Homo sapiens: one gene and its partner. The protein of the gene in region 1 interacts with the protein of each later gene in a biochemical or structural test. Each region holds a gene or a part of one and is shown in the gene's direction. Other genes may lie near its edges.

Region 1 (3,808 bases):
CGAGTAGCTGGGACTACAGGCATGCGCCACCATGCCCAGCTAATTTTTGTATTTTTAGTAGTGACAGGGTTTCATCATGTTGTCCAGGCTGGTCTTGAACTCCTGACCTCAAGTGATCTGCCCACCTCAGCCTCCCAAAGTGCTGGGATTACAGGCCACCTCCTGGGTTCAAGCGATTCTCCTGCCGCAGCCTCTGGAGTAGCTGGGATTACAGGCGCCCACCACCACGCCCGGCTAATTTTTGTATTTTTAGCAGAGACGGGGTTTCACCATGTTGGCCAGGCTAGTCTCGAACTCCTGACCTCAGGTGATCCACCCGCCGTGGCCTCCCAAAGTGCTGGGATTACAAGTATGAGCCACTGCGCCTGGCCTTCTTTTCTTTTTGATTGAAGTATTCCCTTTAGCATTTCTTGTAGGACAGGTCTGGTGTTGATAAAATCCCTTAGCTTTTGTTTGTCTGGGAGAGTCTATTTCTCCTTCATGTTTCAAAGCTATTTTCACAAATTATAGTTTTCTAGGGTAAAAGTTTTTTCCTTCAGCACTTTACATATGTCATGGCACTTTCTCCTGGCCTATAAGGTTTCCACTGAAAAGTCTGCTGCCAGATGTATTGGAACTCCCTTGTATATTATTTATTTCTTTTCTCTTGCTGCTTTAGGATCCTTTCTTTAACCTTAACCTTTGGGAGTTTTATTATAAATGCCTTCACATAGTCTTCTTTGGGTTAAATCTGCTTGGTGTTTTATAACCTTCTTGTATGTAGATATTGATGTCTTTCTGTAGATTTGGGAAGTTCCATGCTATTATTTCTTTGAATAAACTTTCTACCACTATTTCTTTCTCTACCTCCTCTTAAGGCCAATAATTCTTAGATTTGCCCCTTTGAGGCCATTTTCTAGATCTTGTAGGCATGCTTCATTCTCTTTTTTCTTTTGTCTCTTCTTACTGTGTATTTTCAAATAGGCTGAATTCAGGCTCACTAATTCTTTCTAATACTTGATCGATTTTGCTATTGAGAGACTCTGATGCATTCTTCAGTATGTCAGATGCATTCTTCGATTCCAGAATTTCTGCTTGATTTTTAATTATTTCTTTTTTTTATTTATTTTTTATTTTTTATTTTTTTTTTATTGATCATTCTTGGGTGTTTCTCGCAGAGGGGGATTTGGCAGGGTCATAGGACAATAGTGGAGGGAAGGTCAGCAGATAAACAAGTGAACAAAGGTCTCTGGTTTTCCTAGGCAGAGGACCCTGCGGCCTTCCGCAGTGTTTGTGTCCCTGGGTACTTAAGATTAGGGAGTGGTGATGACTCTTAACGAGCATGCTGCCTTCAAGCATCTGTTTAACAAAGCACATCTTGCACCGCCCTTAATCCATTTAACCCTGAGTGGACACAGCACATGTTTCAGAGAGCACAGGGTTGGGGATAAGGTCACAGATCTACAGGATCCCAAGGCAGAAGAATTTTTCTTAGTACAGAACAAAATGAAAAGTCTCCCATGTCTACTTCTATCCACACAGACCCGGCAACCATCCGATTTCTCAATTTTTTCCCCACCCTTCCCGCCTTTCTATTCCACAAAACCGCCATTGTCATCATGGCCCATCCCCAATGAGCTGCTGGGCACACCTCCCAGACGGGGTCGTGGCCGGGCAGAGGGGCTCCTCACTTCCCAGTAGGGGCGGCCGGGCAGAAGCGCCCCTCACCTCCCGGATGGGGCGGCTGGCCGGGCGGGGGGCTGACCCCCCCCCCCACCCTCCCGGACGGGGCGGCTGGCCAGGCAGAGGGGCTCCTCACTTCCCAGTAGGGGCGGCCGGGCAGAGGCGCCCCTCACCTCCTGGATAGGGCGGCTGGCCGGGCGGGGGGCTGTCCCCCCCACCTCCCTCCCGGACGGGGCGGCTGGCCGGGCAGAGGGGTCCTCACTTCCCAGTAGGGGCGGCCGGGCAGAGGCGCCCCTCACCTCCCGGACGGGGCGGCCGGCCGGAAGGGGGGCTGACCCCCCCCACCTCCCTCCCGGACGGGGCAGCTGGCCGACCCCCCCCCCCCGCCTCCCTCCCGGACGGGGCGGCTGGCCCGGCAGAGGGGCTCCTCACTTCCCAGTAGGGGCGGCCGGGCAGAGGCGCCCCTCACCTCCCGGACGGGGCGGCTGGCCAGGCGGGGGGCTGATCCCCCCCACCTCCCTCCCGGACGGGGCGGCTGGCCGGGCGGGGGGCTGACCCCCCCCACCTCCCTCCCGGACGGGGCGGCTGGCCGGGCAGGGGGCTGACCCCCCTCCCCCCTCCCGGACGGGGCGGCTGGCCGGGCGGGGGGCTGACCCCCCCACCTCCCTCCCGGATGGGGCGGCTGGCCAGGCGGGGGGGCTGACCCCCCCACCTCCCTCCCGGGCGGGGCGGCTGGCCGGGCAGAGGGGCTCCTCACTTCCCAGTAGGGGCGGCCGGGCAGAGGCGCCCCTCACCTCCCGGACGGGGCGGCTGGCCAGGCGGGGGGCTGATCCTCCCACCTCCCTCCCGGACGGGGCGGCTGGCCGGGCGGGGGGCTGACCCCCCACCTCCCTCCCGGACTGGGCGGCTGGCCAGGCGGGGGGCTGACTCCCCCACCTCCCTCCTGGACGGGGCGACTGGCCGGGCAGAGGGGCTCCTCACTTCCCAGTAGGGGCGGCTGGGCAGAGGAGCCCCTCACCTCCCGGATGGGGCGGCTGGCCGGGCGGGGGGCTGACCCCCCCACCTCCCTCCCGGACGGGGCGGCTGGCCGGGCAGAGGGGTCCTCACTTCCCAGTAGGGGCGGCCGGGCAGAGGCGCCCCTCACCTCCCGGACGGGGCGGCCGGCCGGGCGGGGGGCTGAGCCCCCCACCTCCCTCCCGGACGGGGCGGCTGGCCGGGCAGAGGGGCTCCTCACTTCCCAGTAGGGGCGGCCGGGCAGAGGGGCTCCTCACTTCCCAGTAGGGGCGGCCGGGCAGAGGAGCCCCTCACCTCCCGGACGGGGCGGCTGGCCGGGCGGGGGGCTGACCCCCCCCACCTCCCTCCCGGACGGGGTGGCTGCCGGGCGGAGACGCTCCTCACTTCCCAGACGGGGTGGTTGCCGGACGGAGGGGCTCCTCACTTCTCAGACGGGGCGGTTGCCAGGCAGAGGGTTTCCTCACTTCTCAGACGGAGCGGCCGGGCAGAGACGCTCCTCACCTCCCAGACAGGGTTGCGGCCCAGCAGAGGCGCTCCTCACATCCCAGACAGGGCGGTGGGGCAGAGGTGCTCCCCACATCTCAGACGATGGGCGGCCGGGCAGAGACGCTCCTCACTTCCTAGATGGGATGGTGGCGGGGAAGAGGCGCTCCTCGCTTCCTAGATGGGATGGCGGCCGGGCAGAGACGCTCCTCACTTTCCAGACTGGGCAGCCAGGCAGAGGGGCTCCTCATATCCCAGACGATGGGTGGCCAAGCAGAGAAGCTCCTCACTTCCCAGACGGGGTGGCGGCCGGGCAGAGGCTGCAATCTCGGCTCTTTGGGAGGCCAAGGCAGGCGGCTGGGAGGTGGTTGTAGCGAGCCGAGATCACGCCACTGCACTCCAGCCTGGGCACCATTGAGCACTGAGTGAACGAGACTCCATCTGCAATCCCGGCACCTCGGGAGGCCGAGGCTGGCGGATCACTCGCGGTTAGGAGCTGGAGACCAGCCCGGCCAACACAGCGAAACCCCGTCTCCACCAAAAAAAAACGAAAACCAGTCAGGCGTGGCGGCGCGCGCCTGCAATCGCAGGCACTCGACAGGCTGAGGCAGGAGAATCAGGCAGGGAGGTTGCAGTGAGCCGAGATGGC
Region 2 (3,808 bases), about 11 Mb from region 1:
TTCACCACGTTGGCCAGGCTGTCTCAAACTCCTGACCTCAGGTGACCCGCCCGCCTTGGCCTCCCAAAGTGCTGGGATTACAGGTGTGAGCCACCATGCCTGGCCGGTTCTATTATTCTTTTACTGGTTTATTATCTGCCTCTCCAACTCCAATCTGAGTTCCTTTGTATCCCCAGTGCCTAGAACAAGACGGGCACAGAGAGGGCGAGCAATATTTGAGTAGACGAATGCCCACATTCTCCTGTCCTCAGCTGGGATCCATCCTGCCCCAAATCTTTGACCATTGTCCCCACAGACCCTCCCTTTCCAGTAAAGTCCTCTGTTGCCCCCAGCTCTGTGCCAACTTGGACACGTGGTGCATCATGTCACCCCAGAACTGCTGCCCCCAGCTGCAGGAGCACAGCCAACAGCCTTGCAAACAGTACAACCTCTGCCACAGGCGCAGCCAGGTACGCGGGGGCAGGGACACGGCGAGAGCGGGAGCCGGTGTGAAGTTAGGACACCTAGGCTTGGGCCCTGACTCTGCCCTCACTAGCTCTGTGACTTCAGGTCACTTGCTATGTATCCAAGCCTCAATTTCTCCTTTCTGTGAAATGGGGCAGATACAGCCCATGCCCACAGCCCGCTCTTTGGATTGACTCAGAAGGCACCACTGGTGTCTGTCACATCACTGTCATGCTGGGGAGTGCACTACAAACCAGAGAGCAGGGATACTTTGTGCTGAGGCTCTACTGAGCCCTCTCTAGTGTGGACACGGCCTCGTGTCTGCCATGACTGGACTGGACAAGGACTAGGTGTCAGGTCCATAACTATACCAAATGTTACACTTGGGGTCAGGTTTGAGCCCATGCTGTGGTCTGGAGGGAGGGAGTGAGTGAGCAGATAGCTGAAAGAACCCTTGGGGGGCCATAGGCAGGTGAAATGTAGTTTTATTCAGCAGCGGCTCTCTCACACTGTCCACCTTTATCTGGGCTGTCTGCTCCGGCCCTGTGGCTCCTGCTGCCCCCACGCCTGCAGCTGCTCTCCCTGGCCGGCAAGGCCAGCTCTGTCAGGGTCAGCAGCTTAACTCTTTCCCTCTGGGCACAAGCGGGTTCCTGGCTCCCCACTGCCCACCTTCAAGGCGACCGGCTGTCCCTTGCAGGGGTTAGTAGCATTATTCTCTCTCTGGGCGAGCAAGCGTGCCCTGCCGTGCCGAGCTGAACCAAGCTCCGTGAACAGCGTCAGCAGGGCAGTTTTACCTTCTACTGACAGTAGAGTCCAGTATGAACTTACACAAACAGGTTATATAGCAAGTGGAGTACGTGCCTGCCCCCCAAACTCGCTGAGTCACTCTGGCCCGGATGTCCGCCTCGGCCTATTCCTTGACCAAAGCACGTCCATGTGCCTTACACTAGGCATCACCGTGCCCAGGCCAAAGGGTAAGAGCACATCGCGGGTGAGACAGGGCAGGACTCCCCCACACCCTAGCCGGCCTCCCTCTGGAGCTCACACCACAGCTAAGACAGATGGGTGAGGCAGTCGCGGTGTGCTACACGCCGGGGTCAGCACCCCCACTGGGTGCCCATCCTCCAACGTGTATGGGAATCCCCTCCAACTCTCCTCTTGCTCAGGATCCGTTTGGGGACTTGCTGAAGAAGCTCATGGACCAAATCCATGACCACCTGGAGATGCCTGAGTTGAGCCGGAAATTTGGGACGCAAATGTATGAGCAGCAGGTGGTGAAGCTGAGTGAGGCTGGTGAGAGGGGCAGCCCTTCTGGCGGAGGCGAGGATGTGGGAGTGGTCAGGGGCGGGGCCTGCCGGGGCGGAGGCCTTTGGGGCGGGGCCTATCCACCCCAGGGGTGGAGTCGAGTGGGACGGCCCTATGGGGCAGGGCAGGGGGCGGGGCTGTGGGCTGCTCAGACCCTGCGCCCTCTTCCCGCAGCGGCTTTGGCTGGGCTTCAGGAGCAACGGGTGTATGCGCTTCACCTGAGGCGCTACAATGACGCGCTGCTCATCCATGACACCGTCCGCGCCGTGGATGCCTTGGCTGCGCTGCAGGATTTCTATCACAGGGAGCACGTCACTAAAACCCAGATCCTGTGTGCCGAGCGCCGGCTGCTGGCCCTGTTCGATGGTGAGGGGCGGGAGGGGGCTTCGGGGCCGGGGATGATGGGACCTGGATGCGAGGTCAGAGGCCAGGGCACAGGCGCCAAGGTCGGATGGGAAGGTGCCCGTGAGGATACTGGTGGAGATCCTATTTTTCTAACCAAAATCCAAGGCCATGGGTAGGACTGATTTATTTCCTCATTTGTGAAGGTTTTTGCTTAGTTGTTAAAATTAATTAACATTGTTGACTTTTTTTTTTTTTTTAATAGTCGGGGTCTTGCTCTGTCACCCAGGCTGGAGGACAGTTGTGCAATCATAGCTCACTGCAACCTCGACCTAATGGGCTCAAGTAATTCTCACCCTTCAGCTTCCCAAGTAGCTAGGCGTACAGGTGGGCACCACCACTCCCAGCTAATTAAAAAAAATTTTTTTTGAAGAGGCGGAGTCTTGCTTTGTTGCCCAGGCTGATCTCTAACTCCTGGGCTCAAGTGATCCTCCTGCCTCTGCCTCCCAAAGTGCTGGGATTACAGGTGTGAGCCACTGTGCCCGGCCCAGATTTTTTAAAAGGATTAGCTAGGAGTGGTTCCTTTAGACTGAGAGAGTGAAGCTGAAAGTCAGAGGGTGAAATTTAAGGTTGCAAATCGCAGCACAGGCTGGGGCTCAAGAGATCTGGGTAGCAGAGGTCAGAGTTAAAAGCTCAAGGGTCATCCTGGTCACTGGGGAGAAGAGGGTTCTGGTCTGAGGTTCTGTACTGTATGACCCCGGTGTGAGGCTGGCCTTGAGAGTGGGCTCGGTAGGAGGCATCCTTTTTTGTTTTTGTTTTTGTTTTTTTGAGAGGGAGTCTCGCTCTGTCGCCCAGGCTGGAGTGCAATGGCACCATCCCAGCTCACTACAACCTCCCCCTCCTGGGTTCAAGTGATTCTCCTGCCTCAGCCTCCCGAGTAGCTGGGACTACAAGTGTGCATCACCACGCCCAGCTAATTTTTTTGTATTTTTAGTAGAGACGGGGTTTCACCATATTTGTCAGGCTGGTCTCGAACTCCTGACCTCAGGTGATCCGCTCACCTCACCCTCCCAAAGTGCTGGGATTACAGGCGTGAGCCAATGCACCCGGCCAGGGCATCCTTAAATATGTTCTTGGTGCTGCTGTGGGGGAGTTGAGCAGGAGTTCCATCCTTCCCCCACCCCCCACCCCCCACCTTCTGCACGCCTACAGTCCTATTGCTGTGAGAACCTCCTCCGCCAGTGCCCTCCCCACTCCAAGATCTGAATCCTCTGCCTCTGGGGCTTTTCTTCTTTCTCTTTCTTTCTTTCCCTCCCTCCCTCCCTTCCTTCCCTCCTTCCCTTCTTTCCTTCTCTCTTTCTCTCTCTCTTTCTTTTCCTTTTTTTCTTTCTTTCCCTCCCTCCCTTTCTTTCCTTCTCTCTTTCTCTCTCTCTCTTTCTCTTGCTTTCTTGCTTTCTTTTTTTTTTTCCCAGACAGAGTCTCACTCTGTTACACAGCCTGGAGTGCAGTGGTGCAATCATAGCTCTCTTCAGCCTTGACCTCCTAGGCTTAAGCGATCCTTCTGCCCTCAGCCTCCCAAGTATCTGGGACTACAGACATGTGCCACTACACCCAGCTAAATTTTGGGGTTTTTGACAGACCGCAAGAATGAGCTGGCCCACTTGGCAACTCATGGCCCAGAGAATCCAAAACTGGAGATGCTGGAAAAGATCCTGCA

Evidence for each region.
Region 2: the proteins of RNF135 (region 1) and DHX58 are reported together in a solved structure, tested with the Homo sapiens proteins (one study listed by BioGRID).

Annotation. Positions count from the first base shown.
Region 1 is NC_000017.11:30,977,498-30,981,305, forward strand, and holds part of RNF135 (E3 ubiquitin-protein ligase RNF135), read left to right. Parts: intron 1-3,808.
Region 2 is NC_000017.11:42,105,911-42,109,718, reverse strand, and holds part of DHX58 (ATP-dependent RNA helicase DHX58), read left to right. Parts: intron 1-332; coding exon 333-449; intron 450-1,610; coding exon 1,611-1,737; intron 1,738-1,923; coding exon 1,924-2,115; intron 2,116-3,729; coding exon 3,730-3,808.